Linked DNA regions of Homo sapiens: regions 2, 3, 4, 5, 6 and 7 are each reported to be linked to region 1. Evidence: microRNA targets listed by miRTarBase, many of them from high-throughput screens and not tested one by one. Region 1 holds a microRNA gene; each other region holds the end of a gene's coding sequence.
What was found. Region 1 holds the annotated microRNA hsa-miR-6872-3p (CCCAUGCCUCCUGCCGCGGUC, at 2,968-2,988, opposite strand). A microRNA usually pairs through its seed, bases 2 to 8, with sites in the 3' UTR of a target mRNA and lowers its output. Matches are read on the target gene's strand: a 7mer-m8 pairs with bases 2 to 8, a 7mer-A1 pairs with bases 2 to 7 and ends in A, and an 8mer does both.

Region 2: the mRNA of WDR59 is a reported target of hsa-miR-6872-3p. Seed matches in the 3' UTR shown: 7mer-A1 at 1,172-1,178 and 7mer-m8 at 1,469-1,475.
Region 3: the mRNA of CTNNBL1 is a reported target of hsa-miR-6872-3p. The part of its 3' UTR that is shown has no 7-base or 8-base seed match.
Region 4: miRTarBase lists TAB3 as a target of hsa-miR-6872-3p. Seed matches in the 3' UTR shown: 8mer at 1,158-1,165.
Region 5: the mRNA of KLB is a reported target of hsa-miR-6872-3p. Seed matches in the 3' UTR shown: 7mer-m8 at 2,488-2,494.
Region 6: the mRNA of ZDHHC14 is a reported target of hsa-miR-6872-3p. The part of its 3' UTR that is shown has no 7-base or 8-base seed match.
Region 7: the mRNA of PRKD2 is a reported target of hsa-miR-6872-3p. The part of its 3' UTR that is shown has no 7-base or 8-base seed match.

The regions. Positions count from the first base shown.
Region 1 is chr3:50,272,187-50,276,262 of GRCh38, reverse strand. It overlaps MIR6872 (microRNA 6872), which reads right to left and starts at 3,027; the gene lies at 2,966-3,027. SEMA3B (semaphorin 3B) reads right to left here. Exons shown (of 17, transcript NM_001290060.2): 7 at 2,820-2,965; 8 at 2,617-2,728; 9 at 2,435-2,504; 10 at 2,206-2,350; 11 at 1,681-1,900; 12 at 1,329-1,420; 13 at 1,210-1,251; 14 at 804-961; 15 at 648-703; 16 at 419-558. RefSeq lists enhancers at 2,387-2,910, 2,889-3,088.
Region 2 is chr16:74,870,462-74,874,537 of GRCh38, reverse strand. It overlaps WDR59 (WD repeat domain 59), which reads left to right. Exons shown (of 26, transcript NM_030581.4): 26 at 94-3,176. The coding sequence ends at 329. Among named protein-coding and RNA genes, the nearest start is that of FA2H, 98 kb to the right of the region's middle. RefSeq lists enhancers at 1-313, 2,519-3,067.
Region 3 is chr20:37,871,689-37,875,764 of GRCh38, reverse strand. CTNNBL1 (catenin beta like 1) reads right to left here. Exons shown (of 16, transcript NM_030877.5): 16 at 3,647-3,840. The coding sequence ends at 3,752. Among named protein-coding and RNA genes, the nearest start is that of VSTM2L, 29 kb to the left of the region's middle.
Region 4 is chrX:30,827,654-30,831,653 of GRCh38, forward strand. TAB3 (TGF-beta activated kinase 1 (MAP3K7) binding protein 3) reads right to left here. Exons shown (of 11, transcript NM_152787.5): 11 at 1-3,922. The coding sequence ends at 3,774. Among named protein-coding and RNA genes, the nearest start is that of TAB3-AS1, 5.0 kb to the right of the region's middle.
Region 5 is chr4:39,448,201-39,452,276 of GRCh38, reverse strand. KLB (klotho beta) reads right to left here. Exons shown (of 5, transcript NM_175737.4): 5 at 744-3,976. The coding sequence ends at 3,591. Among named protein-coding and RNA genes, the nearest start is that of RPL9, 8.7 kb to the left of the region's middle.
Region 6 is chr6:157,672,490-157,676,565 of GRCh38, reverse strand. ZDHHC14 (zDHHC palmitoyltransferase 14) reads right to left here. Exons shown (of 9, transcript NM_024630.3): 9 at 1-3,842. The coding sequence ends at 3,444. Among named protein-coding and RNA genes, the nearest start is that of MIR3692, 150 kb to the right of the region's middle.
Region 7 is chr19:46,671,097-46,675,172 of GRCh38, reverse strand. It overlaps PRKD2 (protein kinase D2), which reads left to right. Exons shown (of 18, transcript NM_016457.5): 17 at 55-140; 18 at 438-857. The coding sequence ends at 650. All of the region lies in intron 2 of DACT3-AS1 (DACT3 antisense RNA 1), which reads right to left. Among named protein-coding and RNA genes, the nearest start is that of DACT3, 12 kb to the right of the region's middle.

The DNA.
Region 1 (4,076 bases):
GGGAACAGGGCTTCCGGGCCCTAGCACGCGACGGAAGAAGCAAAGAGTCATTGGGAGCCGAGGTGGAGCGGGAAAGGGGTGCCCGCAGGCGCACATTTTAAGGCTGAGTGTTTGGGAGCTGGTGGTCTTCAAGGGAGAATCCGAAAGAGGCGGGGTTTACATGAACTTGGTGGGGGGTGGTCAGGGACCTTAATGGGAGGGTCGAGGGCGGGTCTTCTCCTTGATTCAGGGGAGGCGGGTCGGGAGCCCCGTTGGACGCAATGGGGCCTCAGCAGCTTGTGGAGTGCAGGTGAGGGACCAAACTGGACAGGGCGGGGAGTGGGTCTGGTTGGACGGGGCTTCGTTGGGTAGGGCGGGGCCTCTCCTGGATGCAGGGGGTGGGACAGGAGCCTGGCGGGGAGGGCGGAGTAAGGCTCACCTGGGTGTGGGCTGTCACCCCTGCGCGCTGGAAAGTCCACTCCACGCGCGCCTGCAGCGAGCGGGGCTCACACTCCAGAAAGGCGCTGCTGCCCTCCACGCCGAACACCTTGTGTTCCAGCAGCGCGGGACGAGACGAGTCTTGGGGCGAGAAGAAAGTCAGATTTAGGCAAGGCAGGGCAGGTGGGGCGTCTTCTGGGGCTGAGGGTAGGGGCAGCTGGGGCACTCACCTCCGGAGCACAACGTGCTGGGGTCGCCATTCCTTACGTCTTGCCGCCGGAACCGCCTGTGGGGAACATCCGATCTTCTGTGAGCCCTTCTTTCAGCCCCGGGCAGTGAAAGACCCTTCGCCTCCCTCCCGGCGGCCCAACCCCGACCCCGCCCACCTCTTGGCACTGGGCTGGAAGCGCGTGCACGCGACCCCGTCCCAGGCGCAGTAGGGGTCACGCGCCAGACAGCATTCGGTGCAGACGCGGCCGTGGGCAGCGCAGCGGTGCAACGCGATCTGGGCCACCGCGCTCCGCGAGGCTACGTACAGCTGGTGCTAGGGGGCACGAGGGGCTCTGGGCTGACCGAGGGCGACCCCACGCCTGCCTCCCATCGGTCAGGGATCCCTTCTTCCACTCGACAGATGGGAACACTGAGGTCTTACGCCTCAGGTCACACAGTCTAACAAAGCCAGAGCCTGTACTCAAACCCGGGACTGCAAACTACCAAAAGGGGCCAGAGGCTTGGGACGCGCCAGGCACAAGCTCAGTCCATCCCACCCCGACCCCCATCCTGGTCACTCACCCTCTTGGAAGAAATTTGCATGCTGGTGACAGCGGCCGAGTCCTGAGAGGGAGGAGGGGCGACGGGGTCAGGGCTTAGTGGGGTGGGGGGGTCCCGGGCGACTGGGGGTGAGGCCTCACCTCAAACACGTGCAGCTCCTCCAGGAGCAGCCCCTCTGCGCTGGGCCTACTGCCCTTGGGGACCGAGATCACCTTCAGCACCGTGCCAACGTCTGCAGGGATGAGAAGGGGTAATGACCATTGGTGCTCCCGGACAGCTGGGGCTAGTGTCTCCTCGCCTTTGAGGCGTCTACCCTCAGCATGTTTGGGTTGTGAAGAGTGTGGACTGGAAGAGTGTGGGTTGGGCAGCATCCACAGGGTGGAGACACAGCCCAGGAAAGGATGTGGAGATGGGACTGAACAGGGAGAGCTTCCATCAGCAGCCCACAGGGCCTGGCTGGGAGCCTGGGGGTCGCTGTGGAGGGACCCTGACCTGTGCCAATGAAGAGGACGTCATAGTGTCCGTCAGCGGCTGCAACCCGGTCCGCGGCAATTTGAGTGAAGGTGTAATTGGCTCCAACTTGTAGGAAAAGAGGGCGCCCCCCAGTGGGCAGGACAGAGTTGTACATGAGGGGGTGGTTCCGCGCAAACTGGATGACATCGTCTGGGAAGTCCTTGGTGGAACTGAAGGTGCCAAAGGTCTTGCTGGGGCACTGGGGGTGGGGGAAAGGGAGGCACAGCAGGGATATAGATATGGGGGCTTGATAGGCAGCCCTCCATGCCCAGCCTCTGGGAACATGGAGGGGGATGGGGACAGAACCCTGCCCTGAGAATTAGAGAGGAGATCAGCCTTGCCCTAGGAAGTCAGAGGCGGGAAACAAGCCTTGTCTTATGATGGAAACGTTTTCCCACCCATAACTAAAGGAAGAAACCACATTCACCAAGAAGACCCCAGGCCAAGTTCTCAAACCCTTGAGGCTTTGAAGTGGGTTGTAGCAGAAGTCCCTGGGCTACGAACCATGCCTGGCCGCGGGTAGGGGACGCGACCCTGGTATGACACCCACTGGTGCATGGGCCCCTCCTTGTGTGCAAAGGGTCCCAAGAAGGCCCGGCGCACGTCGTTCATGCTGTACACGCACACCGCAGAGCCCTGGAAGATGCTGCTGGAGGCGAAGACCAGGGCGAGGTGAGGGGCCGGGTGGAGCCCAGCGGCCCGCCCCGGGCGCTCCCTACCTCCTGCCCCTCACCTGGACGTGGAGAAGACGGCATAGAGCAGCGGGGTCCGGTGGTCCCGCGAGGACAACAGAAACACATCCTCTGCGGGGAAGGGGCCTAGCTGGGGTAGGGCGCACAGCCCCGCTGCGGCGGGGGCTCCCGGAGTCTGCGCCGCTGCCCCCCTCCCCAACCCCATACCCACTCCCGCACTCACGGAGCTGATCGAAGTGGGTGTCGCCCTCGACGCCGGGCACCGAGCACACCAGCCGCGCCTTCAGGAACGTCGTCCACTTGTTGACCAGGCTGCGCTGGCCGCCCACGTCGTTCTGCCGGGACGATCAAAGGGGATGAGGGCGAGACCAGGGCAGGCAAAGGGGTAGGGGCAGGGTCGCCGGGTGTGGCCCAGGGACTCCTCACCCGGCAGATCTGGCCAACGCGGGACACGGACAGGCGTCCCAGTGCCGGCGCCGCCTCTACCGCCGTCTCACGAAAGAAGAAGTAGATTTTGTCGTCGTCTGGGTTCTCGCTCTCCGGGATCCAAAATACCTTGACAAACTTGGGCTCTGACCGCGGCAGGAGGCATGGGTCAGCGGGTCCTGGCCTTGCCTCCTGATGCGAGACCCACGCGCTGCTTCCCCTTCCCGTAGTGCGGGCACAGCACCCGGGATCACAGTGTCTGACCACCCAACCTCTAGCACCATGTCCAGTTGGCGCTCTGCGCGGACCGAATCCAAAGGATCAGGGCCTGCGAGGCAAGAAGCAGCCGCGAGGGGGCAGCAGAGACCGTGGCTACCTGGGGGCGCAGGCGTGAAGCCCGGCTAGCCTCCGATCTCGCCCCACACGTCGCCCAGCACCTTAGGCTGGGGTAGGAGGGAGATGAGGTAATCTGGTTTCACCTTCACTCATGAATCTTCCTCTCTAGCATAACCAGATGCTCCCCACTCCTGCTTCAAATCCTTCTGCTGGGTCCCATTGCTCTTTATTATTATTATTATTATTATTATTTGTTTATTTATTTATTTTTTGAGACAGTCTCGCTCTGTCGCCCAGGCTGGAGTGCTCGATCTCGGCTCACTGCAACCTCAGCCTCCCAAGTAGCTGAGATTACAGTCAGAGCCTACCACCACACCTGGCTTTTTTTTTTTTTTTTGAGACGAAGTCTCGCTCTATTGCCCAGGCTGGAATGCAGTGGCACAGTCTCCATTCACTGCAACCTCCGCCTCCTAGGTTCAAGCGATTCTCCTGCCTCAGCCTCCTGAGTAGCTGGGATTACAGATGCACACCATCATGCCGGACTAATTTTTGTATATTTAGTAGAGACGGGGTTACACCATGTTGGCCAGGCTGGTCTCAAATGCCTGAACTCAGGTGATCCGCCCGCCTCAGCCTCCCAAAGTGCTGGGATTACAGGTGCACACCACTGCACCCGGCCAATTTTTGTATTTTTTAGTAGAGACAGGGTTTCACCATGTTGGCCAGGCTAGTCTCAAACTCCTGGCCTCAAGCGATTTGCCTGCCTCCGCCTCCCAAAGTGCTGAGATTACAGGTGTGAGCCACTGTGCCCACCAGCCCATAGCCCTTATTTAATTTTTATTTGATTTAGAGACAGGGTCTGCTCTGTCCTGCAGTGGCAGCATCATGGCTCACTGCAGCCTCCAACTCCTGGGCTCAAGT
Region 2 (4,076 bases), not on the chromosome of region 1:
GGAAGACTTCCTTCTTCCTGGCAAGCCCCAGTTTCCTTTTTCAGAACTAAACTCATGCTGCCTCTTGTTTTGCCCGTCCCTGCCCATTTCCAGAGTTCGGCGTGTACTGCAGCCACTGCCGGAGTGAGGTCCGTGGCACGCAGTGTGCCATCTGCAAAGGCTTCACGTTCCAGTGTGCCATCTGTCACGTGGCTGTGCGGGGATCGTCCAATTTCTGCCTGACCTGTGGGCACGGTGGCCACACCAGCCACATGATGGAGTGGTTTCGGACCCAGGAGGTGTGTCCCACCGGGTGTGGGTGCCACTGCCTGCTTGAAAGCACTTTCTGAACCTACAGAAGTTGGGTATTGTCTGAAATCCCAGAGGACCCATAAGTGCCGGTGACAAGCTGTCTGTCAGGGGAGAGGCTCCAGAACCTGGGTTCGTCCCCAGTGAGACCGGAGGATGATCCCCCAAGGACTGCGCAGCATCAGCTCTTGGTGGGCCTCTGCCTTCTCTTCTGTTTGGCCACCTGGTGTGGATGTCACTGTGTGAAGATAAGGACAGAAGTGCAGAGCTGCGCTTTGTGTGTTGTCTATGTCGGCTGAGCTACCAAGGTGGAAGTTTTCATGGAGAAAAGCACCTGGCTCCAGGGCCAGTGTTACAGTGTTACCCTGTAAGGTGTTAGCCTTAAACCACCGAGCAGCGTTCTCTTGATGCCAGTGCAGAGACCAGAGTCAGATGCCCGAGGACAGTGGGTAGGAATTTCATCAACAAATGGACCTATGGCATCATGGCTTTAGAAGCTGGTACATTTACTGAGCTGATGGACAGTGGCCTTCTAAAATATGACACTTAAATTGTAAATATGCACTGTACTTAAGGATTCTTAAGATGTATTTTTTTGTTATTTCTCCTCCAGCTGCTATCCCTTGGCTAATAAAATTCTAGTAATTTGAAAAAAAAAAAAAAGAGAGAAAGTTAAACAACATTATGGTGAATCATTTTTTACCCTAATTCTAATTGAAGGTAGCTATTTTGAATAGGACCAAAGTCAGTGCTCCGATTTTTAAAGGAAATGCTGATTTACTTTTGTCATCTGACAAGAGAAAATGGAATTTGACATTTAAGGTTCTTCCTAGCCCCAAGAGTCTTATTTCTTCTAGCAAAAGGAGGACAAGATTGCCGTGCAGCATGGATAGAAAAGTCTCCCTGGCCAGGCCCCATGGCTCATGCCTGTAATCCCACACTTTAGAAGGCAAAAGTGAGGGGATCACCTGAGCTCAGGAGTTCGAGACCAGCCTGGGCAACATAAGGAGATCCCATCTCTGCAAAAAATTTAAAAAATAGGCCGGGCACGGTGGCTCATGCCTGTAATCCCAGCACTTTGGGAGGCTGAGGTGGGAGGATTACCTGAGGTCAGGAGTTCGAGACTAGCCTGGCCAACATGGTGAAACCCCATCTCTACTAAAAATAGAAAAATTAGCCGGGCATGGTGGCGGGCGCCTGTAATCCCAGGTACTGGGGAGGCTGAGACAGGAGAATCGCTTGAACTTGGGAAGCAGAGGTTGCAGCGAGCTGAGATTATGCCATTGCACTCCAGCCTGGGTGACAAGAGTGAGACTCTGTCTCAAAAAAAGAAAAAAAAAATTAAAAAAATAGCCGGGTGTGGTGGCACATGCCTGTGGTCCCAGCTACTTGAGGGGCCGAGGTGGGAGGATCACTTGAGTCCAGGAGGTTGAGGCTGCAGTGAGCCTTGATTGCACCGCTGCACTCCAGCCTGGGCAACAGAGTGAGACCCTGTCAATAAACCAAAGTCTTCCTTGCCTCTGTTCAGATGGGCTGGGTTCCAGTGAGTGCCCTCACTCTTCCTTTAGGCTCCCTCGCAAACTGCCTGTGTTTGCCTGTGTTCTGAGTAGTTATAACATCTGTGTCCACCAATTCTTCAGAATGATTTTCTTTTTTAAAGTTAAATTTTTTTTTTTTTTTTTTAGAGAGAGAGACAGGGTCTCACTCTGTCACCCAGACTGGAGAGTGGTGATGCAATCATAGCTCACTGTAGCCTCTATCACCTGAGCTCAAGTGATCCTCCCACCTCAGCCTCCCGAGTAGCTGGGACTACAGGTGTGCACCACCATGCCTGGCTAATTTCAGAATGATTTTCAACTTCACATTTTGTATGTGCCAGTGAAAAGAAATCTTTTTTATTATTTCTACTGAAATATCTATTTCTGTTTCTTAGAATTTTACAGTTCCAAGTAGATTAGCTTAGGGACTAGGACATGTCTCATAATGGGAGAGCATTGCATATTCATGTGTTTCAAACTCCAGGTCAGGACCCATTAGTGGATTGTGACATTGATCTAGTGCGGAAAACCAGCATTTAAAAAAATGAAATGGTGTAAGAGAAAAATGATCACAATGTACCATACATAGCTAAGGAAAATGTTTTGTGTAACTTGTTTACGTGTGTGCAGCACATGTGTGCACAGGTGTATACCGGATCATAGCGTAAATTCATTTCTTACTGAAAGTTGTAGTCAAAACATTTTCACAACACTGTTTTGGATGAAGCTTATACCTCGTCCCCTGTGTTACTGGGCACAAAACTTCAGGATGTAAGAAAGAACTGAGATCCTGTGCAGTGGAACCAGAGGTTTAGTGCTGGGCTCTGGTCTGAGGTAAGGTGCCAGTGTCTCAGTAGCGTGAGCAGGGCGGGGGAGCCGCTGGGAGGATGACAGGAGAAGGCCCAGCCGGGAATTTGCATACACAAATTCTGTTGTAATGGTGATCACAGAATAGGTTGGCTGATTTACACAGAGAGAAAGGATCTGTTGTGTTCCTCAGTGAAATCACACCATTTGCAGAGAGCAATCTTTTCCTGTTCCCCACTGCTCAAGTTAGTGTAAAAACCTGTCCCTATCTGTCCCCATCAAGAATGAGATGTTTTTCTTGTTTTATTGTTGGAGGAACATTGACTTTCAAAATTGAAAAACCTTAATGGTGTGAAGAAATTTCGAGTTTAAAATATTACATAATGTCATCCTTCAATACGGAAATTCCTTTTGAATTTCCAAGTTACCAGAACAAAAGTCTAATATTTTAAAATATTCATGTTTGGAAACAGGTTGGTTGTCTGGTTGCGGGCCATGGCCGATATTCTCTCAGCCGCAGAATAGATGATTACAAGCACCTGAGTCTTTTGTTTGTTTATTTGTTTTTAAGAGCAATACAAGGCCAAGTGGGGTGGCTCACGCCTGTAATGCCAGCACTTTGGGAGGCCGAGGTGGGTGGATCACCTGAGGTCAGGAGTTCAAGACCAGCCTGGCCAACATGGCGAAACCCTGTCTTTACGAAAAATGCAAAAATTTTCCGGGTGTGGTGGCGGTTGCCTGTAATCCCAGCTACTCAGGAGGCTGAGGCAGGAGAATCGCTTGAACCCGGGAGGCGGAGGTTGCAGTGAGCCGAGATTGTGCCACTGCACTGCAGCCTGGGTGACAAAGCAAAACTCCGTCTCAAAAAAAAAAAATGAATAAAGGCAATACAAGCTATGTTTGAAAGTACCTTTGCAAGAAAACAGGCCCAGCAGTCGTATTTGTGCACCAGAAACAAAAGGTTGCTCAGGCAGGATACTGGAAAGGATGGGGGAAGGGGCGAGCCTCAGGGCAACCACCAGGTTGACTATTTGTCCCTGTCCCTAACCCCCCCAAGACACAAATGGTATAATGCTTTCTTTGGTAATGTCACATAGATAGAATTGATGTTGCTTTAACAATTTTTTTTTTTTGAGACAAAGTCTTGCTCTGTCACCCAGGCTGGAGTGCAGTGGTGCGATCTCAGCTCACTGCAGTCTCTGTCTCCGAGGTTCAAGCGATTCTTCTGCCTCAGCCTCTTGAGTAGCTGGGATTACAGGCGTGTGCCACCATGCCCAGCTGTTTTTTGTATTTTCAATAGAGACGGGGTTTCACCATGTTGGCCAGGCCAGTCTCAAACTGCTGACCTCAAGTGATCTGCCCGCCTTGGCCTCCCAAAGTGCTAGGATTACAGACGTGAGCCACCGTGCCCAGCCAACAATGTTTTGTTTAATTTAATACAAA
Region 3 (4,076 bases), not on the chromosome of region 1:
GAAATCTAATCAAGAAGCCTTGCCTTTAGGAAAGCGAGTCTCGTCTCCCTGTTGACACTAAATTGACGCCCTCAGTAATGGCAGAAGATGCCACCTGTGCACTGGTGCTACCGTGGGGGTGACTGAAGGATGCCTTCCAGCGGCCCTGACAATGCGTCTCCCTAGATAAGGAAGGCACGCAGCCTGCATGCAAATCTCTGTGAATTAGAGACGGCCCATCTTGCTGCTGCTGATTCCAGGCGTGCGACCACCACAAACGGAGCAGCAAGCCGCCATGGAAAATGAGGGTGGAATCCTATTTCCCCTGTGAAGAAACCCTGGCGAATATTGCTAAAAGGCAATCCGATTGCCATGTTTGGGTTGGAAAAGGAATACTGCCTCTCTGGATGCTATGGTCTGGTCCCACTCAGCTATGGACATGAGGATGAACATGAAGAAGCTTTGTTTGAAGGGGCAAATTTAGACTGAGCCCTTTCAGTGGGCAAAGAAGTCAGGTTCGGAGCCACAGGCCAAGGGCAGCCTTTCCTGGAAGCCCAAGAAGCTCCCCCAGAGGAGAGATGCTGCTTTGTGAGTCAGAGGGTTTTTTAGGCAGACAGCGAGCTGCCTGAAAGCTGGGACCACGCCCCAAGAGCCCAGGGTGAGCAATGAGGAGCTCTACCTCGCCCTGAAAAGCTTTGCGGGGCCTTGGGTCGTTGAAATCAGGGAGTGGTGGTGGCTGCTTTCTCCTTACGCTGTCTCCTTGGTCCCTCGGGCCCTGGAACCGTACTCCCCTGCTGCACCCGAAGGGACTACACCTCACATTGCCCCTAACCCTCCGCACACAAAACTAATGGAAAAGGGGACCGCTTCCTCAGTTGTCAAGAGAAGAGTTCCAACTTGCTTTTAGCAAAGGGACAGAATTCAGGAGGCTGCCACATGCGAAGCAGGGCAAGGTGCGGCAACCATGGAGTGCCTGAGCCGCCCCGGCCTTTCCTTCCTATGCTGGCCTCTGGGAGCTGGTGGGTAGCCTGGGCTTCCAAACACGGCTGGCAAAATGCTGGACAGAACTCTGGAGGAGAATCAGATGGCAGCAGCTGCCTCCAGGGGCAGGAAGTCCTAGGCGATGGGAGAGGAGTGGGTGGACTCTTCACTGCCTCGCTTTTTGTTAAATTTTGAACTCCTATACCGTTTGCAAGCATTACCTGGTTAAAATTAAAATTGAAAAAGAAAATCAAGGTGAAGGACTGATGATGTCTAAAGTACCGATCTTAGCTCTAGAAGTCTGCTTCTCTAAGTTACACCTGGACATGCTCTATTTTTTGTGAATTCATTAAACCACACAACAGATGAAAGGATCGGAGCACGGCGTCAGCCGGTACGGTGTGACCCTTCCAGGTAGAGGAGCTCAGCGGGAGAGGGTGTGAACTGCGCCGTCGGACAGGCCTGGCTAGAATGTGCGTTCTGATGCTTGTTGGCCACAGGGCCTTGTGCAGCTACTTACCCTCTCTGAGCCCTCAGCCTCAGCTTGCATAAATCGGGGATAACAATGCCACTGGGCATTCGATATGTGCCAGCTACTACAGTTACAGAAAAGTCAAGGAAGAATTAGACCCAAAGTGACGGCACCGCCATCTGATCCTGTGACAGGCCCTGTCGCGCTCTCCTGCCCCTCTCTGTGGGGACGCTTACAGTTATGCATTGTTCTCCCGCCAGGCTGCAAGTGAGCACCAGCAGGCAGGGCCTGCCTTACTCTCTGTTCCGTCACCAGCCCAAGGCTGGACACAGAGCAGGTGCCATCTTCTTCAGGGACCTCTCGGTGGCTTCCTGGGATGGCAAACAGGTTTCACCCAGCATGTCAACTCTGGCCTGATGGCAGTGGCCGCTTGGGGCCCTGTCCCTCAGGGTCTAGGGAGCAGCAAGAGGGGCAGGGACACAGTGCGAGGCGTGTAGCATCCCCAGCAGCCTGTCTGTGACCCTGGGCTGCACAATGCATTGGAATGAAATGCTGCTTTCTTCATCTGGCCACTCTTCTGCCTCCTCACTCATGGGGACTCTGTTCTTTGAGGATTGATTAAAAACATGCTAAAGCACTGCTGACTTCTGAGGGGGAAACCAACCTTCTCATCACCTATGTCGAATGAGTAGAATCACAGTTCTTTTTTATTTTTTGAGACAGGGTCTTGCTCTGTTGCCCAGGCTGTAGTACAGAGGAATGATCATAGCTCACTGCAGCCTTGACCTCCTGGGCTCAAGCAATCCTCCTACCTCAGCCTCCCATGTAGACGAGATCATAGGTATGTGCCACCATGCCTGGCTAATTTTTCTATTTTTTGTAGAGATGGGGTTTCACCATGTTGCCCAGGCTGGTCTCGAACTCCTGAGCTCAAAGATCCTCCCCGCCTTGGCCTCCCAAAGTGCTGGGATTACAGGCGAGAGCCATCACATCTGGCCTGAAATCACAATTCTGAAGTCACAAATGTGTGTGGGAAGAACCAAAGGAAGCAGCAGCTACCAAGCCACGACTGTGCCTTCATCACTGCGCTGCAGGCTTGCTGAGCATGCCATCCTCAGCAGCAAATGGGTATTATTGGCCCCACTGTGCAGTTTAAGAAGTGAGATTCAGAAAGGTGAAAGTCACTTATCCAAATGTACAGCTAAATCAGCCAGATGTGGTGGCACCTCCCTCTCAGCTACCCAGGAGGCTGAGGTGGGAGGATCGCCTGAGCCCAGGAAGTCAAGGCTGCGGTGAGCTGTGGTTGCACCACTGCACTCCAGCCTGGGCCACAAAGTAAGACCCTGTGTCTTAAAAAGAAAAACAAAACAAAACCGGCCAGGTGCAGTGGCCCACGCCTGTAATCCCAGTACTTTGGGAGGCCGAGGCAGGTGGATCATGAGGTCAGGAGATCGAGACCATCCTGGCTAACACGGTGAAATCTCGTCTCTACTAAAAATACAAAAAAATTAGCCGGGCATGGTGGCGGGCGCCTGTAGTCCTAGCTACTCGGGAGGCTGAGGCGGAAGAATGGCGTGAACCTAGGACATGGAGCTTGCAGTGAGTCGAGATTGCGCCACTGCACTCCAGCCTGGGCGACAGAGGGAGACTCCGTCTCAAAAAAAAAAAACAAAACCCAAACCAAAACAAAATGTACAGCTGGTAATGATGCAGTGGGGAGATGGACCCAAACCTGTCCACTCTAAAGCAGTGGCTCTCACCCTGATGCACGGAACCACTGGGAGCTTTAAACAGCCCAAATGCCAGGGCCTCACTGAGAGATTGGATGCTATTTTTGCGGTGGGGCCCACGTTGGGATCTGGTAATTCTCCATGCAGCCCCCACCCGAGTGGTCTGACACGCGGCAGGGCTCTGCATGCTCTGAGGGCTGTGCTGTGTGGCTGGCCTCCCCAGGGAACTGGAGCATGAGGCCAGGGCCTTGGGTCCCACATCTAGACTCTAGGCGGGTCCCCAGTCCAGCCTCACAGCAGCACCACCTGCGTAGCCACAGTGGCGAAGTTGTCACTGCTACACCCTCTGAGCCTCAGCTTTCTTGCAGGCGGAGTGAGGCTGCCCATGTGCCTTCCCTGGGGGAGTCCTGAAGTAGCTGCTGTGGGGAGGGGGCAGGGAGGGTCAGCAGGCGAAGCTTAACTACAAAGAAAACTGGCCCGGGGATACCAAAACTAGCTTTAATTTGTCCAAAAGCCACACAGAGTTGTGTAGAAACTGATCCTGGGAGGGAAGCTGAGAGAGTCCATGATGCGCAGGGCCAAGGTGCCTCTAGAAGTTCTCCAGCAAGCCCAGGATGCGCTTTTGCTCGTTCTCCCGGAACTCCGGGCTCCGGCCGTCCCCGATGTTCTCTGCATACTCTAGGGGGACAAAGATAGAGTCAGGAGTGGATCCCAGGCATGGCATCCACCGTGGCTGCGTCGCTTCATACCTTTCCCAGAACCCCAGCTCCCACAGAGGTGCAAGTCGCCCTAATGCCCCCACTGTAGCCAAATTCCTTGGGGTCTTGCCTTTGAGGCCTCAGTGGAAAGGTCCCAACTTACCTTTCCATGCTTGGATTCCCCTCCTAGCCACACCCTTCACTTCCGCCCTCATG
Region 4 (4,000 bases), not on the chromosome of region 1:
AATTCTTTTACAGTAGGGAAAGAAACATGGACATTGGGTATCATAAATAATTCAGAATTGTTCAGTCTCAAAGTAACTTTTCATGGCTTTAGAATTAAAATTGAGTCATCATTCTATTAATCTCTGAATGCCCAAGCCATGCAGAATCTACTTGTATTAAATATTTGGGGATGCAAATAATACAGGAAAAAAAGTCTGGTGAATGTGAAAACGTCATCAGAATTAACCTTTACAATAGGCAAATACTGTTAATTCTTTCGAAAAGATACAGTAGTGGTGCAACACAGACAGTGCCCAATTTATTCTGATTTTTAAAAGTAACATTTCAGTTGTCATTTTTCTTTCTCTACAGATAGATATACAGACACACACGGTAACATGGACTCATTCAAGGTCTAACAATGGTACAATATTAAAATAATTCAATTTTTAACTATAAAGGGACATCTTCACATTCCAGGATACATCATTGATATTTTTAGAGGACAATTCTTCTATGCCTTATATTCTTTTTGTTTATACTGTCAGAAATACATTACAATTACCTCTTAAAAGACTATATAAAATTGAATTGCCACAGAAGGTTGGATATGAACCCTAGACAACTGTGACAAAGCAATGACAAAATTTAAGGAAACATTGATTTATTTGCATAATTAAAAAGTACTAAAATTGAGACCAGCTCCTTAAAAATTAAACTGCTTATCACACTTCCCATTTCTTCCAGGGAAATAAACAAATTAGCAACACTTTCCCCACCATCATTATTAATTTGCTCTAAAACTACATTTTTACAATGCATTTCTTTGTTTCTTTAAAGCCCCCTGCCTCTACTCTCTTCCAAACAAAGTCAATATCAATTCAAAACATTTTACAATGCTTAAAAAGTTTCTGGCTCCTCTATTACCATTTTAAACTTTTAAAAACTACTCCAAAATTTAAGGGGCAATGTACTTTAACAAAATGGCAAACGTGCTTTCTAAAATCCCAGTTTACAAAATAGCGAAATAATGTAAAATGTATAGTCAGGCCTATATGTTACCAGATACATCAAACTAGTCATTTTAAAGAAACCTCTTACAAGAAACAAGAAGTGCACCAGCTGATCCAGCTGGCACCTCAGCAGCCAGGCGTCATCCGATTTATATCCTACCACTTCCATGCCAATTGTCTGTACATACCAACTGACTACAAGATCCTTTTGAAAAGGCATCTTGAAAGTTGGGTGAATTCTTGTTCAAACTGGTCATAGGCAAAAAGCAGTCTACATATGGGACACAGTTAAACATACCAGATTTATCAGTGTCAAGTCATTTTGCCTATTTTAAAACTGAATACAGCCTATGTTGGCATATGAAACTTGTGCACAATTAAAAATTAACATGTACAAAACTTCCTTAAAATCAATCTGATACCGCATACCCCACCCTTTACACCTATCCAATAGACTGTTTTCTCTCTTTTCCTGGCAGGTGAAAACAATGATTGACTAGATAATATCACCAAAGGATTGAAACCATGCATCTACTGTATAACAGCTTATTAACCTTGATGTATTTTCATGCAATAGTTTTAAAGTCATCTACATGGTTTTATAAAGCATCAGACTGTTTTCAGACATGCTACTTTCATTCTCAACTGACAACTGCCAAGTTAATTGCCTCCACTTCAGCATATCACTATGAATACTGGTAAACCTTTTAGCTAGGACACCAAGCAGTATATATATATATATTTCCCCTAAATTGTAACTTAAAACCAAGTGGGGTTGACCATCACTAAAGAGATATGAAACCATACAAAGGCAAAGGCATATTACAGAACAGTAGGACGGCTAGACTGTTATTGGAGACAGAGACCAGTGTTACAAAAACCTTTGAAGAACGTTGTTTTGGGGACCATGCTTTTAAGCCCATCTGCTTTCTCACCGTTATTTTCACAGTTTTGCCACAGTTGTTGTGTGAGAGATGTTTTTATCAGTGTTAATTACCATGCTTCCTTTGGGAGACTAGTGGATATATTTTGGGGAGTTTTTCACATATGAAAAAATGTTTTCAAAGCTGTAGGCAGAGTGTGAAATGATTCTGATGGAAAACTATGATGAGTTATTACGCCTTTGGTTTCATTATGCTATTAAGAGCAGCTTGTTTTTCCAGGTCTGCCAGAGATTACTGCTAAATTAGAAGTGGGGGGGCGGTGTAGGGGGGTTGGGGGAGAAACCTGATGGGAGCGTCTATGGATATTCCTAAGACGATATCCTCAGGTAAAATCCTTTAGGATGGGAGAACCTACTAACTTTATTGCTGTTTATACTCACCAAAATGAGGGGAAGATTCCAAAACTCCAATTCTGAGCTAAGAAGGAACTCCAACAATGGCAGAGACCTTAATGAAATGTGCTATTAAGTTTCCAGCGATGCACCCTAGTGAGTCACATGACTTTATATCTCTTATCCGCACCCTGAAGTTCTATTTCATAAATAAGGAGTGCTTTAAAATGATCTGAACTGCCTGTAGAGACTCAATTGACCTCTAGATACAGTTATGTTAAATTTTAAAAGTTGTTTCAAAGTCCTCTATATTCACCTTTCTCTTAATAATTTTTGACAATCCCTCCTTTCCTAAATAATGCAGTGTGCAACTTTGTCGTTGGCCAACTGTAATTCCCCTCACACTGGTTTGTTAACATATGCAAGTAAGTTTTTATTGAACAGTTAATATTGATTTCAGCTAAATTAGGATTATGGCACAAAGTTTTATCTGTGCTGTAAACATCATGAATTTATCACAAAATTGGAAGGAAAAAAAAAAGGCCCTATGGACTGCAAAAGTTTAAGAACCACAGCTGAGCTCAAGATTTCCAAATGGATTTTGGAATGGACTTGCATTTGGCATACATTCACTGTGCTACTGGCAAAGCGCAGTTTTACGAGAATATCATTTATAAAATCATACTTTGTAAGGACTTGTTATTTTGAAAACCAATGGCCTTAATAAAAACATGCAGTAACTTAAAAAAATGCATCTCTTATGTGGCATAAGTAGGTCTTAGTTACCAGTGTTGATAGAGCTCGATGAATCACACTGTACAAGCCAAAGGCATCTTACCACCTCTGATTGTACTTTTAAACAAAGGCATGATATGCCTAGTTCCTGACTGCTACAAATCACATTTTAAAACATTTTGTTTGTGTGCATGTATGTGTGTTGGAAATTACCCCTGAAAAAAGCAGCAATTACAAATACCCTTAATTAATTTGCCCCCCCCCCCCAAATATTCTAGGTGCTTTTTCCTGTTGTCCTCTTTAGTAGGAAGCAATGGGAAGAAGCACGGGGAGCCTTGGTTTTCCAGAGAGCGGTGACCAGGTAAGTCTGCTCTGGGAATTCACAGTTTGCATAAACTGTAGCATTTCATACTATGATTCAAAGTACTACTTTAAAAAATAAGGGCCACTCAGCAGTAACTTTAACAATTGGGATTCCACCACAGAAGAGCTCTTGACTTCTGTGTGTACATTCTTTCACAGAGTGAATCCTTTCCCAGTTTCAAGTATCCCTTTCTATCTCTCACTCTGTAGTGAGTTAAGAAAGGAGAAAAAAAAGACCTCCCCATTTTTCCTTTCGTGAGCACAACGACGACCACAAAGCCATTCCTCCTCCCCGCTGTGCAATCGAAAATGAAAAGGCTGGGTGGATGAATAGAGTCCCGAGGTTTCCTTTTCTTCTGGTAGTGCTCAAAGTTTCACTTTCAACCTGGCGCAGACTTTTCTGAATTCAGGTGTACCGTGGCATCTCGCACTGCTCACAGCGATTTAGTGCTGGGTGGTTAAGAAAGGTGCAGCTATCACAATTCCATGGAGCCCCTTCGTAGTCTTCATCTCGAGGTTGTGTCCGAGGACTTTGTGTGGAGCCAGTTCGATGCTCTGAGGGAGGTTAGGATTAAGGGGGAGGGGGAAGGTAAATAGATTAACCTTTTTCCAAGTATAATCCAAACTGAAAAG
Region 5 (4,076 bases), not on the chromosome of region 1:
TGAGGCTTGTGGGAGAAATTTCCAAGTGGCAATATTCTAGTGGGGTGGAGATGCTCATGAGAGGATCAGCTTATGGGGAGTAGCTGCTGTGGGAGTAAATGAGATTTCTTTGAGCATGAAATGGACTGGCATGCTGGGTCTGACCTTCATAAGGTAACTTAAGAGACTGTAGCTAAACAGTGATTTTTTTTTTTTAATAACTTGGGTATAACAAATGAGCCTAGTTCTCCAGGGAAAACTTAATTATTGTCTTCTGTGTCTACTATGGATAAGCACTTGTGCACTATTTTTGCAATTTTTAGATGTAGGTGTCCACATATTTTTGAGACGGGGTCTCTGTCACCCAGGTTGGAGTGCAGTGGCGTGATCTTGGTTCACTGCAACCTCTGTCTCCCAGGCTCAAGCAGTCCTCCCACCTCAGCCTTCTGTGTAGCTGGGACCACAAATACGTGCCACCATGCCTGGCTAGTTTTTTGTAGAGAGGGTTTTGCCACGTTGCCCAAGCTGGTCTCAAACTCCTGGAATCAAGCAATCCGCCCACCTTGGCCTCCCGAAGTGCTGGGGTTACAGGTGTGAGCCACCACACCTGAGCCACATTTTTTGAGAAAATATACCCAGAAGTAACATACCAAGTTGGTGCACAACTAGGCAGAAAGGGATTCAGGGGAGGCAGTCTTGGGGCAGAGCCCATTTACAATGCCAAACCCATTCACATTCAACAGTTCTTAAAATTGACCAGGTTGTTAGTTGAATACAAGTGGTCAGCATGAACCAGTTTATTTGGAATAAATTACATTGAAAATTAAACATGTAGTCACACTGTACTGGCCTCATTTTCCAGAGGCTCTTTAAATATAGTTGTGATTCTCCAGGTTGTTACATTGAATATACGATAAACACGTTAGATTTTTCACAACACATCTCAGAAAAGCTTAAACTCCAAAGATCTTACCTGTTTGCTCCTTTCAAGAGTTATCAGTTTCTGGTTGACCTTTGATGGTTTTTAAGGAGTTTATGATAAACCTGAATATTTAGTATGATAGAGCATGAGCCAGATTAAATGCTTAACCTAATTTGCTGTACATATTTGCCAGTGGTTAAAAAATTTAAGGGTTTTTGGATTCTTGTGCGATGATGGCTTAAAAACTAGTAAAATAATGCCCAAGTGGCAGAGAAGGAGGACTCTCAGTACTGGGTTAGGAATTTTATTACTTAGGGGAGTTTATGGTAAACCAGCAAGTTAGAAAAGGGGGGCATGCTTTAAGCATAAGCTCTTAATGTGAAAGAGACAGTGAAGGTTAATTTGTGAACTGTGAGTACGAGATACTTTAAACAAAGTGAGAAAGAGAAAGCAAAACCTGAAAGATAAATTCCAGGTTTTTGTTATTCCTGTGGCTAACCTTTTTTTTTTTTTTCCCAAGCCCTTGATGTTAAAGAGAGGTTAATGAGTTGCCCAGTTGACATTAAAGAATTTTCCCTGGAGTTCTTGGGTCAGGGTGAATCAATGTGGCACAAAGGGGAAAAAACCCAGCCAAGTGATTGTTTTAAGTGACTTACTGTTTCTACATAGTTAGAGTAATAAAAACAGAATTGACTAGTTGTATGCGTGACCTTAGGTACATAGTTCTCAGAGGGAGATGTTAATACTAAAAAAATTCCTTGAAAATCATACCTCAAAACTGCCAACTTTGGGGTAGTGGGTGCAGCTGGGGCAAGGAGACTAGAGAAGAGTAAAGCAGAATTTTACTGTTCCCATTTGCCAGGCCAAATAGCAAATTGATTTCTCATCATATTTGCATTTACTCAAATTGACTAATTGTATTTTTACAGTATTTTGGAAACTTGTTCATTAGCAGTTAGATACTGAATTTAGCTTCAGACATAGGTGGACCTAGAATATAATCAAAACTGCCTTAATTTACTAAGGCTTTGTAACAGAAGAACGTCTCTTGTGACTGTTAAGGTCTAAATTGCTGGAGTGAGCAGACAAGGACAAATTAATGTATGCAGTGGGTGTTAAATGTTGACCTAAAGAAAGAATAGGTATAAATAGGTGCATATTTAAGTTTTCTTCCTCAGATGTTTAAAATACACTGAACAAGTCTCAAGAACAGAGTTCATTTCCCAAAGTGTCAAATTATCCAAGTCAGATCTAGTAATTAACCCTAGCCCAAAAGGGTGCTATATAAAACAATTTAAACTCATTCAGTATTCTGAATTGTTGCTTTACTTACAGTATAGCAACTTCTATTCACAGAGTTGAGTCTAGCTTTCCTTCATCCTGTGATCTTTCCATGAGATGAGGTTTTGGAAATTACTTTTATTTTTATTTTTATTATTTTTTTTTATTTTGAGAGACAGTCTTGCCCTGTCCCCCAGGCTGGAGTGCAATGGCACGATCTTGGCTCATTGCAACCTCTGCCTCTCGGGTTCAAGCGATTCTCCTGCCTCGGCCTCCTGAGTAGCTGGGATTACAGGTGCCCACCACCATGCCCGGCTAACTTTTGTATTTTTAGTAGAGATGGGGTTTTGCCATGTTGGCCAGGCTAGTCTCGAACTCCTAACCTCAGGTGATCCACCTGCCTTGGCCTCCCAAAGTGCTGGGATTACAGGCGGTGCCACCGTGCCTGGCCGGAAATTACATTATTTTAAAAAATCAGATCTAGTAAAAGATCACAAATTAGATATTCTATAGGTGATTTTTTGTTGTTAGAAAAATGAAGGGCTTGATCCTCTTTAAGAGTCTGTGTTGTAACTGGCTTAGACAAGCACTACTTACCCTATTGTGTTTTCTTTCCATTTTAGAACCACCCTGACCTAAAGGAGAAGGCACCTTATTAGAAGTGACAGAATATATATTATCTATCACTGACTACCCAGTTTAAAGAAGGGTGTTAAATCTCTGCTGTAGAGTCTAACAAAACAAAGTTTTGCTTTTGCTTTTTTTTTTTTTTTTGGACACAGTCTTGCTGTTGTCGCCTAGGCTGGAGTGCAGTGGCGCAATTTTGGCCTACTGTAACCTGTTTCCTGGGTTCAAACTTCTGCCTCAGCCTCCCAAGTAGCTGGGATTACAGGTGCCACTGTCACCACGCCTGGCTAATTTTTTGTATTTTTAGTAGAGACATGGTTTCACCATGTTGGCCAGGCTGGTCTCGAACTCCTCACCTCAGGTGATCTCCCCGCCTCGGCCTCCCAAAGTGCTGAGATTACAGGTGTGAGCCACAGCGTCCAGCCCCAGAGTTTTACTTCTTAAAAATAATTTATTGTACCACAAGTAGCTATTGGTAGAGATGAAAGCTAAAGCAGAATGATGGAATACAGTTGATGAAACTTTAAGAAGCAATGTAGCATGTAATCCTCATAGCTTACTGTCAGGATGAAGCCTTTATGTTTACATCCAAGAACTGAGTTCACTGATGTCAACACCTAAGGGAATGTTCTTTGAACCACACAGCAGAGACAATTGTCATCACCTTGGTTACAGCTGTATCTCAGATTGTCTTTCTATAATACAGGTATATCTCCTGTAAGTTACCAGCATATGGAACTGGGATGAATTTTTAAACTGTCTATCATGCAGACAGATCAGTTTAGCTAACAACTCTCTTGCCTTTCTTTAATGGTATGTGTTGTAAGTTTTTTGCTTTCCAAAACTTTCTTCTCTTCTGCCTTTGAAAAATGGCAATTGATAAGAGTAGAACCAGGGTGGAGAAGAAGCAACAACCCAGGAATATCAGTGGTTTCTTCTGCACAAGGAATAAGCAGACAGTGCACTCTGTATTTTCTTGGGTCTGACTGCATCTAGAACTACTGTTCTCAAAAGGGAAGCCCCTGCTGCTGATCACTTTGTTGTAAAATTGTATTGAGGATTTAGCTTTAAAATCAGATGTGAAGAATCCAAATCTGGGTTTAGATTTCTCTTCAGCCAGTTTGAATGCATAATAGCCTTTGATTCTGACTTTATCAATCAGGTATGCTGAAAAAGATAAGAAATTAACATTAATCACAAATGGACTATGAAGTATCTTTGAGGAAGAATTTAGTTTTCATTGAAACAAGCTAAAATTATGCCCATA
Region 6 (4,076 bases), not on the chromosome of region 1:
TGAAGAGCTTAGGGGTTTTCAAAGCCACAGAAGGCCTGGCCCATCAGGTCTCCGCAGGAACATGGCTCATAAAATGGGTTTGCTCCTCACTTGGAACCACAGCTGGCAATCCTAGACAGAGCCGGTGAAGGCCGCAGTAAGCTGGGGGGTGGCGTGGAACTCTGCAAAGACTCCTCCCTTGTGCCATTCTGGGCCAGAACAGAGATTTCGCATTTTGCTGGCTTAGGGTGGGGACATGGCATTGTCCTCACAGGCTGAAATCATCACATTTGAAAGCTGGAACGAGCATCTTTTGGTTGGGCATAACGCAACTGCTGGGCCAATTTCTGCAGAACGGAGTGACAGGTCACTGTGCCCTCCTGGATGCAGTCTGTCTGCCACCTTCCTGCAGCATCCCCCTGCTTCCTGGGGCCCTCCCGGATGCAGGCTTTGTGCCGCCTTCCTGCAGCATCCCCACTTCCTGGGGCCCTCCTGGATGCAGGCTGTCTGCCACCTTCCTGCAGCATCCGCCTGCTTCCTGGGGACCAGGGCACTCACGCTCAGTTCAGCCTTCAAGTGCCGGGAAGCCTGTGGTTCCCTGGAGCACTCCTGGGAGAACGAACGCAGATGAATTTTTAAACAGCAGAATGAGTGTGTGTTTGTGTGTGTTTGATAATGGTCCAAGCTTTAATAGCATGGTAAAATATTTATTTTACTTTTTATAGCTAGCATGTAATCAATCTCTAACACACTGAAAGAAGTTAGAAACACCAACGTCTACTCAGCCACAGCTAGAAGGAACCATTCAACATTTATAAACATAAGTATTTATATTTATGTACATGTCACATATATGTTCGTGGGAAATGCAGAGCCATCACCTCGCCAGGTGAGCTGCCCCTCCGACCATCCCTCCTGACAAACAGAAGTGGGCGCCCCAGGGGGCATCATCGCTCATTCCTCTGATGCTGGGTTTCTTTTTCAAGCCACAGAGGACAGGGCTGTGGGCTTCTCTCTGGTTTTGGTTTTTAAGACATTAATTATCTAGCAAATTGGCCCATTCAAGTTAATCTCTCTCTTGACCCTGAATAGCCTTGATTCACTTCACCAAAATTCCCAGTCCCCTATTGGATAAATGATGCCAAGTGTGTGCCAGGGACAGGGTTGGAGGTGGGGAAATTGATAATAAATATTAAGTAAATATCCATTATGTGAAGACAAGTGAGTCGTGATCCTGGCTTCTGGGAATTTTTCACAGTGAGGTGGGAAGAAGGGCTGGTCACAGGAGAGTGGCAACCACTGAGTTAGGAAATGTTAGAAGCGGGAGGCCTCTGAAGACCATGATCTTGCTTTCCAGGGGAATGAGCTGAGAATGGACTGGGCCACACGTGGGACCGGAGTGAGGGCTAAGCCGGATTCGCGGTCACCCATGGAGCACCGTTCTCATCAGGGCCAACTCCTTCCTGGGGCCTCTGGGGAGCAGGTGGAAGAAAGCAAGGAGCAGAGACGGTTTGGGAAGTTGTGGAAGCTCCTTTGTGGGGCTGTCACTTTGGGCTCACAGGTAGCGTGGACAAGGAGAATCCCTGTGAGTTGGTGCCTGTGAGCGTGTGCGGTTGTGTAAGGAGGGCACTGCCCCATGAATTACACATTGCAGGTGGGTACAAGTAGTTAGGTGGTTCAGAAAATCAAAAATGGCTACATAGAATGGACCTATTCCATTTTCTATACGTGCATGCAGCATGACAATAAAGATGGCTCGAAGACATCACAGTGCAAGAACTCTGCAGGCCCTTTCAGCATGAATTATTTTGTGACCTGTGAATTGCCTTCATTCCAAATAAAACTTGTGTGCTTTTCTTTTTCCTATCTTCTTTTCTTTTATATAAAATGGCAACTCTTTCTCAGGAGTAATAGCCTTTTTCCATAAATGCAAATCACTTGGGTTACTTGTATCATTGGTCAATGTGTCTTGTCTTTCATATGGTTATAAGGAGCAAGGCCATGGCTTTGAACTTGAGTAGCTTTAGCTGTTAGATTTATGGTCTGGAAAGAAGCCAGGAGAGGAGTTGCTGTGTCCCCTGTGGCTGCCCCCATAGTGACACACTCCCTAAGTCCAGAGCCAGTTCGTTCCCTTCTAGGTGACCAATGAAAGTGAACAAAGTGGTCATTTTCTTAATTTCATTCTGATCAGTGTCTAGGAAGGATGATGACCTACATGATCTCAGCTTAGACTGTAAGCCGATTTCTCCTCCTCATTTTCTGATACCTTTACTAGGACCTCAAGTTGCACTTCTGGGATTGAGTGACACGTTAACACAGAAGGAAGCCCAGAAGACGCCCGACAGAACCTTCTCCCTGAGCGTCCCCTCCCCTCTCCCTACTTCCGATCAACTGTTGCACGGCAAACTGCAAACGTAGAGCAAATTCCACTAAGATGGTGTCAAAAAGAGATAATTAAAGAAAATAAATGATGGAAAACTTGCCTCTTATCTAAGAAATTATTCTATAAATATCTCCCAGTTCAAAGATTTGACTTTTGGTTGTCTGGGGACCATTCCTCGCTAGGGACATTTCAAGAAAAACTCTCCCCATCTGGATGACTTTGTTTTCATTTATGCTATTAAGGATAACCGTACGCAGATCCAAAATAACAGAGGACGTCATTTTATTGGCTGTCCACGGGAAGTTTCATCACACACGGAGGTGAAGACTGTGGGGGTTGTGGCACACAATATCTCAACACGAGACCTCATCGAGCGGCCAAACAGAAGGTGAAGTGACACCCGACACGACGGAACCCCAGCCGCCCTCTGCAGCCCCGGTGCCACCTCTCCACAGACGCCTCAGCCCAGTAAGCTGAGTGATGACACTGTCCATTAGTCTCAGTTCGTTGCACTGTCTTCCAACAAAACAGCACTTGAAAATTCACAAAATTAAAAAAAGAAAAAGAAAGCAGCACTTCCTTGGAAATAGCAACACCACTGTAACACAGACGGCAGCGTGGCATGCAGATCCACACCTGGTCGGTTTTTTCCCTTTAGGATTTTTTTTTTTTTTAATTAACAAATGGAATGGCAGGTCTGTTTCAAATATTAGTAGCATAACACATAAGTGCAATTGCAGTCTGGCCACAAGCGTCAGAAGCCTTCCGTGTGTCTGTCACAAGGGCGGGCAGACACACTCCGATTCCACCCCTGGAGGGTCACCAAAAGAAAGCAGCCACTTCTCTATTTCCATTGTTGTCAAAGCACTCAGGTTGGGGAAGAAAATTCAAATGAAACCAAGCTCTCAGCATCCGGGGCCAGCCACCCTGTGCCATCCTAAGTGGTCTCTGTACCCCAGACCTGGGGCTGTCATCTCCACCGTGGCATTGGCTGGGAAAGTCGCTGTGGGACACACCCCTCCGCTCACTCCTGCTGCCCATGGAGGAGCCTCTGGTGTCCCCCGGCCTGGGGCCATGTGGGTCACACGGAGCTGAGCTTCACCAGGCCGCGCACAGAGTCCTCATGCAGGGAGTCCTGGCTGGCCAGGCCCAGCACGTGCATGGTGCGGCTGTGCGCCAGGGGGCTGCCCGCCGCCAGTAGCCTGGGGGGCGAGGGCGCCTCATCGGGCGTCAGGAACTGGTGGCCCATGTGCTCATCTTTCCGGGGCATCACGTCCGCGAGCGTGGCCTCGGCGAGGTTGGGCATGGAGGCGGGCGGTGTGGGCGGGCCCAGTGTGAGGCTGGCGCAGGGCGTGCCCAGGCCAGGCTTCCCGGGCAGGTGCAGCTCGTCGCTGGTGAGGCTGGGCTCGCTCTGCAGCAGGGGCGTGGCTGCAGCCTGCAAAACGAATTTGGTGCTCTGAATGCACTGGTCTTGGTCGCACTGGAGAGCGGGAGGCGCCAGCAAAGAGAAGGTGGAGAGGAGGGGGCAGAGGTGGGGAGGGACAGGGATGGGGACAGGGCACGGGCGGGGAGGGTGGGGTGCGAGAAGAGAGAAACCGTTAGTGACACCTCAGTCAGCCAGGCAGGGAGCGCCTACAGTGGTCCAGGTGCATTGGGAGAGACACCCAGCGCCTGGTGCTGCAATTGCCTCTGCTCAAATGAAGTCACCACGGGT
Region 7 (4,076 bases), not on the chromosome of region 1:
AGGAGGAGTGACCCTTGACCTGTAGGGCTTGACCTGTTTCTCTTTCCTGTGCAGCCATTGACCTCATCAACAACCTGCTGCAGGTGAAGATGCGCAAACGCTACAGCGTGGACAAATCTCTCAGCCACCCCTGGTTACAGGTGATGCAGGGGGCAGGGCTGGCCCATTGGCTGGATTGGAGGAAGGGGTGGGAGTAGATCGCTTATTGGCTAGGCAGGTTGTGAAGGATGTAGGTTTCCTTGGGTCTGGAATGTGGCTAGGCCTCCCATTGGCTGGGTGCAGGAAGAGGGGGTGGAGCTAAATGTCTACTGGCTGGGTGGGTTGCAGAGGGTATGGCTTCACCTTCATTGGTACCCAGCTCTCAGTGGCAAACCAGAGGATATCCAGGCACTGCTCCAATGCAGACCCCAAGCTAACCCCAGTTCTCTCGGGCCCAGGAGTACCAGACGTGGCTGGACCTCCGAGAGCTGGAGGGGAAGATGGGAGAGCGATACATCACGCATGAGAGTGACGACGCGCGCTGGGAGCAGTTTGCAGCAGAGCATCCGCTGCCTGGGTCTGGGCTGCCCACGGACAGGGATCTCGGTGGGGCCTGTCCACCACAGGACCACGACATGCAGGGGCTGGCGGAGCGCATCAGTGTTCTCTGAGGTCCTGTGCCCTCGTCCAGCTGCTGCCCTCCACAGCGGTTCTTCACAGGATCCCAGCAATGAACTGTTCTAGGGAAAGTGGCTTCCTGCCCAAACTGGATGGGACACGTGGGGAGTGGGGTGGGGGGAGCTATTTCCAAGGCCCCTCCCTGTTTCCCCAGCAATTAAAACGGACTCATCTCTGGCCCCATGGCCTTGATCTCAGCACACGGCACTCTCGAATCATTACTCTGTTGTACCAACATGGAGTTCATCTGGAAGGAGGACTGCCTGAAAAGAGGAAGGATGGAAGGGGTGGGGAGAGAGGACTGATGGGAGAGGAGTCTTGGAAGGAGGACGAGCTGGGGTAGAAAATATACAGGAAGAGTGCCAGGAGAGAAGATGAGAAGGGAGAGGGAGGAGTAATGGAGGAGGAGTTGGAAACTGGGGAGAGATGGAAGGAATGTGACTGGAGGGTAGAGAACTTGGAGAAAAAGTAATCTCATGGTTTGTGATGACTGATTTTTTATTTGGTGGTGGTGTTACTACTAATCACAACTATTAATTCAGGCTGGGTGTGGTGGCTCATGCCTATAATCCCAGCAATTTGGGAGGCCGAGGCAGGCAGATCCCTTAGATCTCAGGAGTTTGAGAGCAGCCTGGCCAACGTGGTGAAACTCCCTTTCTACAAAAAGTTCAAAAATTAGCCAAGTGTGGTGGCTTGCACCTGTGGTCCCAGCTACTTGGAGGTTGAGGCTAGAGGATCGCTTGAGCCCAGGAAGCAGAGATTGCAGTGAGCCAAGATCACACACCACTGCACTCTAGCCTGGGCAAGAGAGTGAGACCCTGTCTCAAAAGTCAAATAATAAAATGCAGTTAGCCCAAGTCTGATCCATACTAGAAAACTGATACGTAACATTCAGTATTTTATTTTATGTTGATGTGATGACTTCTCTATCTATGAAATAGAGAAGTATATATTCACTCATTCCTTTGTGTCACTGAGCTGGGTGATGCTGGGGACACAGTGGTGACTGAGACAGCCAAGGACTGCCCTGCCAGTAGAGAGACATACCTGCCCCTGGACAGTGATGACCCAGAACGGGAAGGGCTGGACTGGGGGAGTTTGGGAGGCTTGGGCAGCCTAGAATGAGCTCAGGGGTCAGAGAGAGTGGGGAATCAGAGGTGACCTCTTAGGCTTCATCTTGGCCTTGAAAGACTGAAGGCAGAGGGAATGAACTGGAGGGAACACGTATCCACCTCTCTCTACCTTTGACTCCAGCCCTCCACCTCCCCAGTTCTCCAGTAACACCCTAACACATGGTCCTCCACCTTCCACAGCTGAAGGTGAACGATCCGAGCATGGACCTGAACAAGTTTTCTTCAGACTTTCAGAACGCTCTGACTTACGTGCTGCAAAGACCTATCTGAAAGCTGGGCATGGTGGCGGGTGACTGTATTCCCAGCTACTTAAGCGGCTGAGGTGGGAGGATCGCTGGAGTCCAGGAGTTCGAGTCCAGTTTGGGCAACACAGCCTTAAAAAACCCAGGAAAACAGGAAAGAATTTAGTAGCCAATTTAGGCTAATACTGGGAGCTTACTCTGGGATTTTCCAATTTGATTTGTATCACCTTGTCCATCTGATGGTTCCAGAGCTGCAGCTTTTTTTTTTTTTCCTGAGGCAGGGTCTCTGTTTCCCAGGCTGGAGTGCAGTGGCATGAACACAGCTCACTGCAGCCTTGACCTTCTGGGCTCAAGTGATCCTCCCACCTCAGCCTCCTGAGTAGCTAGAACTACAGGCACATGCCACCATGCCCAGCTAATTTTTTGGATTTTTTGCAGAGGTTTTACCATGTTGCCCAGGCTGGTCTCAAACTCCTGGGCTCAAGCGATCTGCCTGCCTAGGCCTCCCAAAGTGCTGGGATTACATGCATGAGCCACTGCGCCTGGCCAAAATGCAGCTCTTTGATTTGAAAATGCTAAACGAGCCTCAGTAAATGAAGGTATCCAAAGGAGCAGTATACCTCTGAGGCATAGTTGCTAAGACTATTGGGGAAAGGCTCTTAGACTCCATCCCCAGTGCCTATCCCTCTGTTTAGTCTAAGGTCCAGAAGTGTAGGCAACATAGAGATGAATCCATCTCCCGTGACAGACCCAGGCTAGAAAATGTATGGAAAAGACTATCACCCCTGATCTGCTTCTGTCTTGGCCACTAGTTAATATCCAGAGACCAGAAATGAGAGACGTGATTCAAAAACATTCCTCAATTATAGAATTCCAGGAGATAGTGTATATCATGAGGATGCCATGAAAGATAAAATCAAGGCCGGGCGCAGTGGCTCACGCCTGTAATCTCAGCACTTTGAGTGCTGAGGTGGGTGGATCATCTGAGGTCAGGAGTTTGAGACCAGCCTGATCAACATGGAGAAACCCCGTCTCTACTAAAAATACAAAATTAGCCGGGCATGGTGGCACATGCCTGTAATCCCAGCTACTCGGGAGGTTGAGGCAGGAGAATCGCTTGAATCTGGGAGGCGGAGGTTGCGGTGAGCTGAGATCGTGCCACTGCACTCCAGCCTGGGCAACAAGAGCGAAACTCTGTCTCAAAAAAAAAAAAAAAAATCAAATCCATACAATGAAAACTTAGGGCCCTATAACTTAAATCATTAGAGACAAAAAGTTTATCCTATCAGGACCACTGGAATCACAAAACCTAATTTTGTTTGTTAGAGACAGGGTCTTGCTCTATCACCCAGGCTTCTGTGCAGTGGTATGATCGTAGCTCACTGCAGCCTCAAACTACAGGGTTCAAGCCATCCTCCCCCTCAGCCTCTTGAGTAGCTGGGACTACAGGCATGAGCCACCACACCTCGCTAATTTTTTGTTTTTTATGTAGTTTTTAATTTTTTTATTATTTTATTATTTTTTGAGATGGAATCTTGCTCTGTTGCCCAGGCCAAAGTGCAGTGGCATGATCACAGCTCACTGCAGCCTCAACCTCCTGGGCTCAAGTGATCTTCCCACCTCAGCCTCCCAAGTAGCTAAGACTACAGGCACATGCCACCACGCCCAGCTAATTTTTGTATTTTTAGTAGAGAAGGGGTTTTGCCATGTTGGCCAGGCTGGTCTCGAACTCCTGACCTCAAGTGATCTGCCCACCTCGGCCTCCCAAAGTGCTGGGATTACAGGCATGAACCACCGTGCCCGGGCATGTTTTTTATTTGTTATAGAGATGGGGTCTCACTATGTTGCCGAGGCTGGTCTTGAACTCCTGGGGTTGAACGATCCTCCACCTCTCAAAAGTGCTGGGATTACAGGTGTGGGCCACTGCACTCAACCTCAAAACCTAATGTTGATAGAGACACTTGTATATACTGTAAAGAAAAGGGACATTGGACTTGACACTATTTAGCTTTGAAATGCAAAAGGAATTTGAGTCTAAGATTCA